Linked DNA regions of Homo sapiens: region 2 is linked to region 1. The links come from fine-mapping of genetic effects on plasma protein levels. Region 1 holds a variant in brackets. A gene starts in the other region. All regions are shown on their reverse strands. Region 1 has its middle 50 kb from the start of BCAS1. Region 2 holds the start of FGF23 (fibroblast growth factor 23).

What was found. PIP is the chance, under the fine-mapping model, that this variant and not a neighbour inherited with it causes the effect. Protein levels are from antibody-based Olink assays in UK Biobank. Linkage for the fine-mapping came from a reference panel and not from the study's own genotypes, which makes the PIPs less certain.
Region 2: it holds the start of FGF23, and the variant in region 1 is fine-mapped to the plasma level of the FGF23 protein (UK Biobank, PIP 0.97).

The regions. Positions count from the first base shown.
Region 1 is chr20:54,118,109-54,123,492 of GRCh38, reverse strand. No RefSeq gene overlaps it. Among named protein-coding and RNA genes, the nearest start is that of BCAS1, 50 kb to the right of the region's middle. The variant C/G (reference allele first, on the strand shown) is at 2,077.
Region 2 is chr12:4,376,708-4,382,091 of GRCh38, reverse strand. FGF23 (fibroblast growth factor 23) reads left to right here and starts at 2,380. Exons shown (of 3, transcript NM_020638.3): 1 at 2,380-2,720. The coding sequence starts at 2,510.

The sequences.
Region 1 (5,384 bases):
AAAATACAACTTTCAAACCCCATTGAAAAAGGAACCAGGCCTAGTTCCCTCTAACAATACCTGTTTACCTATTGATTTTGCCATGGCTCAGAAAATATGTATGGTGTCCTTAGGAGGACTAAAGTGGTTTTCATATGTAACTCACATCCCCAGGTTCCTTTAGGTGTTTTCTAGAGTAGAGGACCTTAGCCTGGGGAGTAAGGGAGGCAGAGAAGGCCTGAGCATCTCTGAAAGGCCGTCAAAATGTGCATGAACGTTCGTCAGGACAGGGTTTTTAGCTGGGGATTCAAAGGTTAAGAATCTGCTAGCTCTCCAGACTAACTGAGCTCAAAGTCTTGAATTTGTACACAGGGCCAGGCAATGTTCTATACATTCATTTAATCCTCCTAAGCAAGTTACGAATTGACACTGCTATTTCCACATCCCCGTCTTACCAACTCCACATTAAGCTACCAATAACAGTGGCATAACCAGGAATCCGAACCAGGCATGCTGGCTGTAGCATTCATGCACCTAACCACCGTACTGCTTAAATAAAACACAGATAAAGTGACTTACTTATCTACATTTTAGTTGTACCTAGTCTGAGTGAGAAGTTGGGAAGAAAAAGTGACTTCGACCAAGAAGAAATGCAGAATTACCTGGGCTGTTTGTTGATCAATCCACTAGGACATTTGGCAAATTTTCCCGTGCTTACTATCTTGTGTTTTGGAGATGTGTATGCATGTGTGTGTAGGTGCGTGTGTGTGTATATGTGTGTGTATAATTTGTGACCCAAATTTTAATAGGTGAAAAATCAGTTAGATTTCTATCCTCAATTATTTTATTATAATTTAGTTTCCTATTCTAAATAATTTGAAACATGGTAACTATTTTAGTAATTTTGGGGAAGACAATGTCTGTTCAAGGACTTTTTTGATTAGCATTTTAAAGTAAACATGTTTGTTCACTAAATAGGGAAACCCACAGTCTGGGGAACTGACTTTGTCTTAAATGATGGTCTTCACCAGAAACTGAAGTTCATGAGTTTATGAGTCATCTCTGGCTCATTCTTCAAGTTTGCATTAAAAGTCAGGAGAAAAGGCTTATAATCAGGCTGGGTGTTTTGCTGCTGTTTTTCTTGTTGTTTTGCATTAAAGATGCTCAAAATGAATTGAGAAATAAAATCAGCCGTGCATAAATAATGGGCTTAGCCTCCTGGTCAGTGTCATGTGCAGAGGCAGAAATGGTTCCAGTGGCTGACTTAGTTAGGGGAAGGAGTAGTATTTGGGCATTAAAGATTTACCAAATTGTATTTTTGCAATTCTATTTTTGGGGTTCTGCTGAGCAAAAAAAAAAAAAAAAAAAAAAAAAGCCCTGCAGCTCATGAACCTGGACTCTGAACATCCTCTCTTTAGTTTACTATAAAAAGAAAACTCTTTAATAAAAAACAGTGAACAGAACTGGGATGAAAGTTTAAGGTTTTCTTTAGTCAACAGCTTTCCTGTGGTTCCTGAATTTCTGGCTGAACAAGCACAAATTGGTGAATAATGGAGGCAACCAAAGTAAAATATAGGAAACCGAAGTAAAATATTAAAATATTGTCTTTACTGAAGGTCCTTCTTCAGGATAAAGAGTTAAGAAAATGATCACACTAAGCATTCCTTACTTAGGTAAACATTGACAGGAAGTGAGGTGAGAACTACCTTGTCAGAAAATGTGTGGGATGCTGGAAGATTCTTTAATGCAAGTCACAGACTGGCAGGTTCCCAGCCAAATGTGGACCTCACATGGGCTTTTTTGGCTTGCATGATGTGTTTTAAACTTTTGAATTTGTTGACAACTTTTAAAAATTGAGGGAGTGCATTCTCAAAGTTGATATTTTTCTCTTGCCTTCAAAAGTTAGACCTGTTGCCAGTCGGGCGCAGTGGCTCATGCCTGTAATCCCAGCACTTAGGGAGGCCCAGGTGGGTGGATCACCTAAGGTCCGGAGTTTGAGACCAGCCTGGCCAACATGGTGAAACCCCGTCTCTACTAAAAATACAAAAATTAGCTGGGCGTGGTGGTGCGCACCTGTATTCTCAGCTACTTGGGAGG[C/G]TGAGGCAGAAGAATTGTTTGAACCTGGTAGATGGAGAGTGCAGTGAGCCAAGATCACACCAGTGTACTCCAGCATGGGCATCAGAGTGAGACTCCATCCCAAAAAAAAAAAAAAAAAGTTAGATCTGTCTATGGTGGGCCCACTTTCTGCTTAGCACAGCTGGCTACAGCTGAGTAACAAAGCCCCCTTGGACGGGCCAGACCCTTGGCTTGTTTGCCTGTTTCCACCATTCCGTAGAACCTCCCACCTGGTCTATCTCACTCATGCAAAGCCCTAGCTTTACCTCATACACATTTGGAATTTTCATATGTGCCATGGCTATGGACCAGTCATTTCTTCACTGCAGTTCTTATTTTATTTACTTTAAAAAAAAATGTTTTAACTTGAAAACTAAAGGTCTCTTTAGTTCTATTCAGCTGTAAAATTCTATAAGAGAAGTACTTTCCTACCCTCATGAAAAATCTCATTGGAAAGGGTGGAAAAAGAAACTAACATTATTTTCCTCATGATTTCTGGGCCTAGAAATTTCTCTAGAATACTATGATTTGCATGTCTGAATCTTTTGTTCTTCTATTTCATCCTCTTTTATTCTTTTCCATAAAAAAAAAAAATCAGTCTATTCCCTGCTCCATCCCTCACACATCTTTGTCCTTTCTTCCTGGTGACATCTTCGGTTTCCAGACTGACATTGCCAGTCACGATGTCCAGGACCCAACTGATTAAAAAATTCTTATTTTCTTATATGAGCTATATCACTAAATTAATATTCTAACCTGATCTGTAAGAACTTAGCCCTGTTGGACTACAGATATGTCTACAGATGCCACCAGGGCACCTATAAGACAGGAAGACACTGTCTAGACACTCGCCTTCTGTTCAGAGCAGGCCATGAACTGGTGACCACCTGGGCCTTGTCCAGTTTACAGGCATGTATCATTCAGCCCCAGTTTGTAGTTTCAAAAATTGGAATCTATTACTAAGATTAAAAACATAAATGAGACATTTCACAAACAATCCAGATTCCTAACTACTGTTTAAAATGGGAGATGTGTCTGACATGGGCCACATCCCCAGATGGCAAGAATTGGCCAAGCAGCTTCCCCTTGAGATGGGTCTGAGCTCTCCAGTCTGCCACAGGCCCCACCTGGCTCGTTTGCCCATATATACCATTTTTCTAGCTCCAGAAAGCACTGGAATCTGATCTGCAAGTTCCCGTTTGGGTTTGAAATGCCACCGCACTTTAACAATGAGATGCAAATCTAATTCGCATTCAGTACCCACATCCTGGTGGTAAACGTGCATTCTAGTATTATTCCCATTTTACAGATGATAAAATGAGATTTAGAGAAACGAAATCTGTTGCCCAAGGTACATGCCTAGCAAGTAGACCAGCCAAGGCATATCTGACCCCAAAGCCCATTTCCTTTACCAAATGTGATGCTTTGTCCTTCTTCTCCCTGCCTTCCTCCCTTTTTGTTACTTTTTTTCCTTCCTTCCTTCTTTCCTTCCTTCCTTCCTCTTTCCTTCCTTCCCTCCCTCCCTCTCTCTCCCTCTCCTCTCCTCTCTCTCTTTCTTTCTTTCTTCTTTCTTTCTTTCATAATAGTGTTTGTAGAAACTGAATTGACTCAAAAGAACACTTGTATTTGGATTCTTGGCTTCTTCTCTAAAATTGGAACATTTGCCAGTTTGTCAATACTAAGCCCTCATTCTCTGACCTCCCTCCACTTCTTAGCAGTGGGCTGGAGCTGAACAACTGCTGTCCCCAGAGCAGGGGCGCAGCTTCCCAGGCTGCTGAAACTCCCATCATTTTCACACCTGACTTTCTTCAATCCATCATGTTCCTGACAGCACCCACTGCCACCAAGGCTGACTTCTCCATTAGGAATAGTGTCAGGACCCAGGACCACAAAAATGTTTTTATTTCAATTTATTTTAAAATCAGAAGGAAAAAGAAATATAATAATGATAATGAATACGTCATAATGAATCCAACCTGTATTTTTCTTTACGCCAATGCAGTCATTACATATAATTTCTTATTTGTTTTAACTGGAGGAAGTTTCAACGGATGGAGTATGTCAATTACTCTTCACATCAAGTTTAAGAACACAGGCCCTAGAGCCAGACTGCCTGGGTTGGAAACCAGGCTCTGCATCCCCAACCAAAGTGACCTTGGACAAGTTACTTAATCTCCTCATCTGTAAAATGAGGATAAAGTCATTGTCTCCTTTTAGACTTGTTCAAGGATTAGATCAGTTCATATACATGTAAAGCGCTTAGAAGAGTAAATGCTACATACATGTTTAACCTTATTAGTTACATTTGTATGGAATGAATGATTGTGTTAGCACCTCCCCCACAATTTATATGTTGAAGTCCCAACCCTCAATATGGTGGTATTTAAAGATGTGGCTGTTAGGAGTTAATTAGGGTTAGATGAAATTGTTAGGGTGAGGCCCTCATGACATTAGTGCCTTGGTAAGAAAAGACATCATGTTCCCTTTTGCTCGCTTGCTCTCTCTCTCCCTGCCACATAGCAAGAAGACAGTCATCTGCCAGCCAGGAAGTTATCCCTCTCCCAACCATGCTGGTACCTGGTCTCACATTTCCAGTTTCCAGAGCGATGATAAAAATAAATGCCTATTGTTTAAGCCACCCAATGGGTAGTGTCTTGTTATGGCAACCCTAGCTAAGACACATGTCCAAACACAAAAAACTTTTCTTTAGCTGTTAATATTTGATGACAACTGCCTAACATCTTTCTAACTCAGGGCTTTTCAACCTTGGCACTATAATATTATGGATCAGATTTTCGCTATTGTTGTGGGAGGCTGTCCTATGCATTGTAGAATGTTTATCAGCCTCCCCGACCCCTATCTACTAGATGACAGTAGTATTTCTCAGTGTGACACCAAAAAGGTCTCCAAACATTGACACACATCTTTTGCTGGGATTGGGGGTAGAATTGTCCTTGTGGAGAAGCACTGAGCTAATACATGTCAGTCCTGAAATATGCGGCCTAAGCAATCGACAGAGCTCAATGCCTCTAGCATCTACTTACCTTTCACTCGCCAGGAGTCCAAAGAGGAAATTCATTCTGTACATTAGATTTTGTTTTGTGTTCCCGCCTATTAGCAACAAGCATCTTCACTGATATATATTTTAGTTGCAACGTCTATGGAGAAGCTTCCTGACTTTTGATACTGTCATTCTTCATTATTAAAAGCAAGTTTTCATTAAGGTCTTGCTTTAGAATTACACAAAGGTCAGGTTTTATGTTTTTCCCTTGAGAAGCCCCTCAGAATTC
Region 2 (5,384 bases), not on the chromosome of region 1:
CTCCATGATTCTCTCGGAAACCCAGGTCTTTACCCGGGGTGAATCTCTAGGGTACATAGTGCTTGTCTCCCCAGGGTTGTTTGGAAGATGTATGACATTAAATGTTTATGTATAAAGCAGGCTTCTTTAGTAATGGCCACAGAATGGTTTATAAATATAGTACCACATCTTCACTAATTTGCTCCTAGTAATGAAGCTCCTCCCACACAGTGCCTTGTATTGAACGAAGATGTTCCCTGCTCAGTTACACTGGGAGCCCCTAGAGGAGTTAGTCCTGCTTTGTAGTCCTACACCCTCCCTTTCATCTCTTACATGGAGAAGGTTCTCAATGGCTGCTGATTGCCTTATAATTACTTCCCATCTCTTTACCTTTCACAACCAGAATAAGAAATGCAGGGCAAATGTTCCTAAGTGATTTGCATCTCAATTCTGAAAGCTAGCTATTTCTTCAATTAGCTAAGACGTAGCATTATATTTATAATCCATTCTGTGGCTATTAGTAAAGAAGACTGTTTTACATATAAACATTTCATGTCATACTTCTTCCACTCAACCCTGGGGAGACAAGCACCATGTGTCCTAGAGATTCATCCTGGGTAAAAGCCTGGGTTTTTAGAGAATAACAGAGGACTGCTTTGCCACCTGCACTTTTTTACCAAGCTCCTGGCTCTCATGGCTTTAGCTCTAACATGTTGTATGGGTTTGGACACCTTGAAAAGTGCTTAGGAGGTCTTGGGGCCAGACCTGGATTCAAATCCAACCTCTTCCACATGTTACCTTTCTATCTCTAGGCAAGTTACTTAAACTGTGTGCATAGATCAGTTTCCTGATCTATATAAAGAAAATAACAGCATCTCCTCAAAGAGTTATTCTGAAGATGAAATGGGTTACTACAAGTAAAGCACTTAGAGCAGTAAGTGGAACAGTAAGCTCTCCATGAGCGTTAGTTCTTGCTGTGATTCTTTGGAGAAGCAGCCTAGGGAAGGAGAAGACCTTGTCCTGGCTCTACCATTTATTTGCTTTGTGCCTTTGGACATGGAAACACTAAGATTTCCATTTCTTCATGTAAAGTATTAAAATCTTGATAATGCATGGAGTGCCTATCTCACAGAGTGGCAGTGAGGTTCAAATAAGCTAATAGATGTGAAAATGCTTTGTAAACTATAAAAAAAAACTGTACAAATGTAGGGTAACAAATGCCATCTCTTTCTGTCTATACCTGTAAGCTTGCACTCATTTTGTATTATAGTTACTTATTTTTATCTGCCTCCTGCATTAGATTTGAGCTCCTCAAGATAGGAATCACATCTTGCTGTCTCCTATATCAACCTGTACATGAGTCTAGCTTGATGCCTGTACATGGCATATACTCAGTACAGGGAAACTGGAAGAATAGCAAACTCCTTGTGTGTTTTTTCGGGTGTGTGTTCCAGTAGCTTGCTCCCCTTTAGACTGTATGTGCCAGGACTATTCCACCCGACATCAGGTGTAGCTTCCCAGAGGGCTCACTGTGAACAGCATCTGCAGGCAGGCATCCAACACCAAGCTGAGCACTCATGTACAGACACTAAATGTGGGGACACCCTGTCCTGAGGCTCGGATCCCCAGTGCTCAGCCAGCAGCTGTTCCAATCCCCATGAGGTCTCTGAATGAGTCTCCTTACTACTGGAGAGACTACTAGTTTAGTTGCCCTCGATAGTCCAAACTAGGGAAATTGAGAAATTGAACCTTGGCATATTCAGTGAAGTCCAGACTAAGGAAGCTGAGAAACTGAACCTTGGCATGTTCACTGACCTCAAGGCCTTACTTCTTTTTCTTCCATTTCAAAATCTTCCCAAAATGGCAACTTTGGCTTTTGTGCCCCTGCTCCTAGCTCCCATCTTTCATGAAGTGGGTGTTCTTAGAGGATGCCATCTGCCTGATGGTGTCATGTATCTCTATATCCTGCAAGCTACCCACCAAATCCTGCTCACAGATTAAGCACTGGATACATACTTGCTGATTGGAATTTAAAGAAAACCAAAATAAGTAAACTCGACAGGAGATTAATTGCCTAGGAGTCGGTTGACTGCTTGACTGAAGCTGGATTTTTTTTGGGAACCGCTGGCTGCCTTCACATTTCCTGATGGAAGTGGGACAGGTCAACAGACAGCCCAGAGTGGCAGATAACTTTTGCCCACACGTCATTCATTTTTTGGAGCGTTGGCTTGAAATTGAGGGGTGTGTGTGTCTGGAACCGACGTGCCTTCCGTGCGCCTCCGGGGTCTTTGCACTTTCTTTCAATGGGCTGATTACAACACAGAGGATGTGGACAGTGGAGTTTTTCCTGTTTGATGTCACACTGCTACCCTTTAAAAGTCTGACGGCAAAAAGGAGGGAATCCAGTCTAGGATCCTCACACCAGCTACTTGCAAGGGAGAAGGAAAAGGCCAGTAAGGCCTGGGCCAGGAGAGTCCCGACAGGAGTGTCAGGTTTCAATCTCAGCACCAGCCACTCAGAGCAGGGCACGATGTTGGGGGCCCGCCTCAGGCTCTGGGTCTGTGCCTTGTGCAGCGTCTGCAGCATGAGCGTCCTCAGAGCCTATCCCAATGCCTCCCCACTGCTCGGCTCCAGCTGGGGTGGCCTGATCCACCTGTACACAGCCACAGCCAGGAACAGCTACCACCTGCAGATCCACAAGAATGGCCATGTGGATGGCGCACCCCATCAGACCATCTACAGTGAGTAGGGCTTCAGGCTGGGAAGAAGGGGAGCACCCTTGTTGTCCATCTACAGGAGGCTTGGGGAGGTTGGGGACTAGACTGGAGGGCTAATCCAACCCTCCTAGCTTTCTGCCCAGGAACCACTTATTGTCTTTGTGTGTGTGTGTGTTTGTGTGTGTGTGTGTGTGCGTGTGTATTTAAAACTTAGGGGAAGATTCTGTCACTCTCCTAATTAGCATTTGCTGGTTTTTCTCAATATGAATAATTTTTATTTCAACTAAAACCCTTCCCACAGTAGGAGCCATGTTCCCTTTGCCCCGTCAAAAGATTGAAAAAATGTACAGAAAGAAAGGCAAGGAGTCTAAGAGAAAAAGAAGCCAGGCAGATCAACAGACACTAAGTTTCAGCTCATGGACTTTGGACTGGGTTAACTAGGGAGGTTGTAAAGATTCCTGGGTCATACCCAGATTGTTATAGATAAATCTGGGGGCTCTTTCCAACTCTGGCCTTATAAAAATTCTTGGAAAAATGTATTAAAGACAGACTGTCCATGTATGTTGTCTTGGTGAGAATGGCCAAGTATACAACCCATCCACCCATTCATTTGTCCATGCATCCATCCATCCATCCATCCATCCATCCATCCATCCATCCATCCATCCATCCAACAGGTTTAATGGGTGTTTCAGACACCCAGGTACCCAGGTACCCAGTATGAGTTGGTGATTCTTCTCTGTGGAACTGAAAGGTGTCCAGTCAGTAGCAAGTCAAGCTAGTTAGAAACTTATTGGCAACATGAGACAACTGGAATGTTTTTAAAGATCAGGTTTGTGGAGAATTGGATCACAATCCACAATAATCAATCCATTAGCAATGATTCAAATGAGGGTCCCTTTGTGTGCACCTATATAAGGGGTAATGTGGTGAAAGCAGGGATAGATATTGAAAAAGACTGGATCTTCTATTTTAAGAAAACGTGAGAAAACACCTCAAAGCATACAGAAAAATGCAAACTGATCCAATATAGCTCAAATTAAAGGAAAGAAAAATTAGTTAGACAATCTCTAACTAAAGAAAACATAGGAATTATGATTTGCCCTTTATTGTTGTAATAAATAAATTAATTATTTTTGCTGTGACCTTGCTGTGTGTGAGGCATTTATTCTTCTAGGCTCCAAAGGTCCTTAAACCTGGTTGCAAGATATACAACATGCAAAATTAAGTTGCAAGATATATAACATGCGAAATTGACAGTTTAACCTCTTCAAGTACTAAATGCATATTGACAGGAGATAAAAGGAGAGAGGAAAGTTCTCTCCGAATACCAAACAGGTTCCAGAACTCCAGAGAATATAGTAAGACTCAGGAGTCAACATCTTGGAAACCAAGTTTGAGTCTCATGGCAAAAATTTCAATTAAATCTGGATACACTTGATGCACCCGAAGTGTTGTTCATTTTATTCAATGGATATTTAATAGGATCTACCATGTGCCTGGCATTCTACCAAGCGCTGTGGCTGAAAACTAAGACACAACCCTTCAAGGACCTCATGGTCTGTCGTCCTACCTTGTCAGCCAGCTCACTACCAGACTTTCAGGAAATGCAATTTTGCATGTCTCATGGAGGGGACACCCTTACTCTAATTCAAGACTATATGTGGGCCAGGTGTGGTGGCTCACGCCTGTAATCCCAGCACTCTGGGAGGCCGAGGCAGGCAGATCACGAGGTCAGGAGATTGAGACCATCCTGGCTAACACAGTGAAACCCCATCTCTACTAAAAATACAAAAAATTAGCCAGGCGTGGTGGCAGGCGCCTGTAGTCCCAGCTACTTGGGAGGCTGAGGCAGGAGAATGGCGTGAACCCGGGAGGCAGAGCTTGCAGTGAGCCGAGATTGCGCCACTGCACTCCAGCCTGGGTGACAGAGCGAGACTCCATCTCAAAAAAAAAAAAAAAAAAAAAAAAAAGACTATATGTGATTTAAAATGCAGAATAGTAGATTATGGTAAATTATTTTGATTCTCTTAGATGGAAAGGGCTGCATCCAACTAGAGAATGTTTATACAACTTGTCTCGAATCCTGGAATCCCGTTGCTGAAAGGAACTCCTTAAAGACGTTTCTTCCTGAACAAGAATTAGGGTAGAACAGAACAGGCCGGCTACGGTGGGGAGTGAGTGTGAAGAGTCAACCTCCTGGGCTGGCAGTCTGAACTTAGACCTTTTCCTTGAAAGCCCACCTCGTATCAGGCCCCAAGGGATCACTGAGTGCTAGTTAGAGTGAATTAAAATGACTGAGAAGCAGCAAAATAAATTGAACTGACTTCAGATTTTTAAAAATAGAAATGTGATTTTGTTTCCTTAGACATAGGCACTAGCTAAACATTGCATCTTTAAAGAGTTAAACATGAATGCGGGGAGGGGAACTTCGGGTCAGGGTAGTGGGAGGGAGATCTACTTTTCCTAGTCTATGTAGATAACTTTTTGTACTGTTCAATGAGTTGTCATGTGTATTATGGGAAAAAAAAAGTGCAGGAAAAAATTACACACTACAATTAAAAGTTACCCAAAAGAGGCCAGATGCGGTGGCTCACGCGTATAATCTCAGCACTTTGGGAGGCCGAGGTGGGAGGATCACTTGAAGTCAGGGGTTCGAGACCAGTCTGGCCAACATGGGGAAACCCT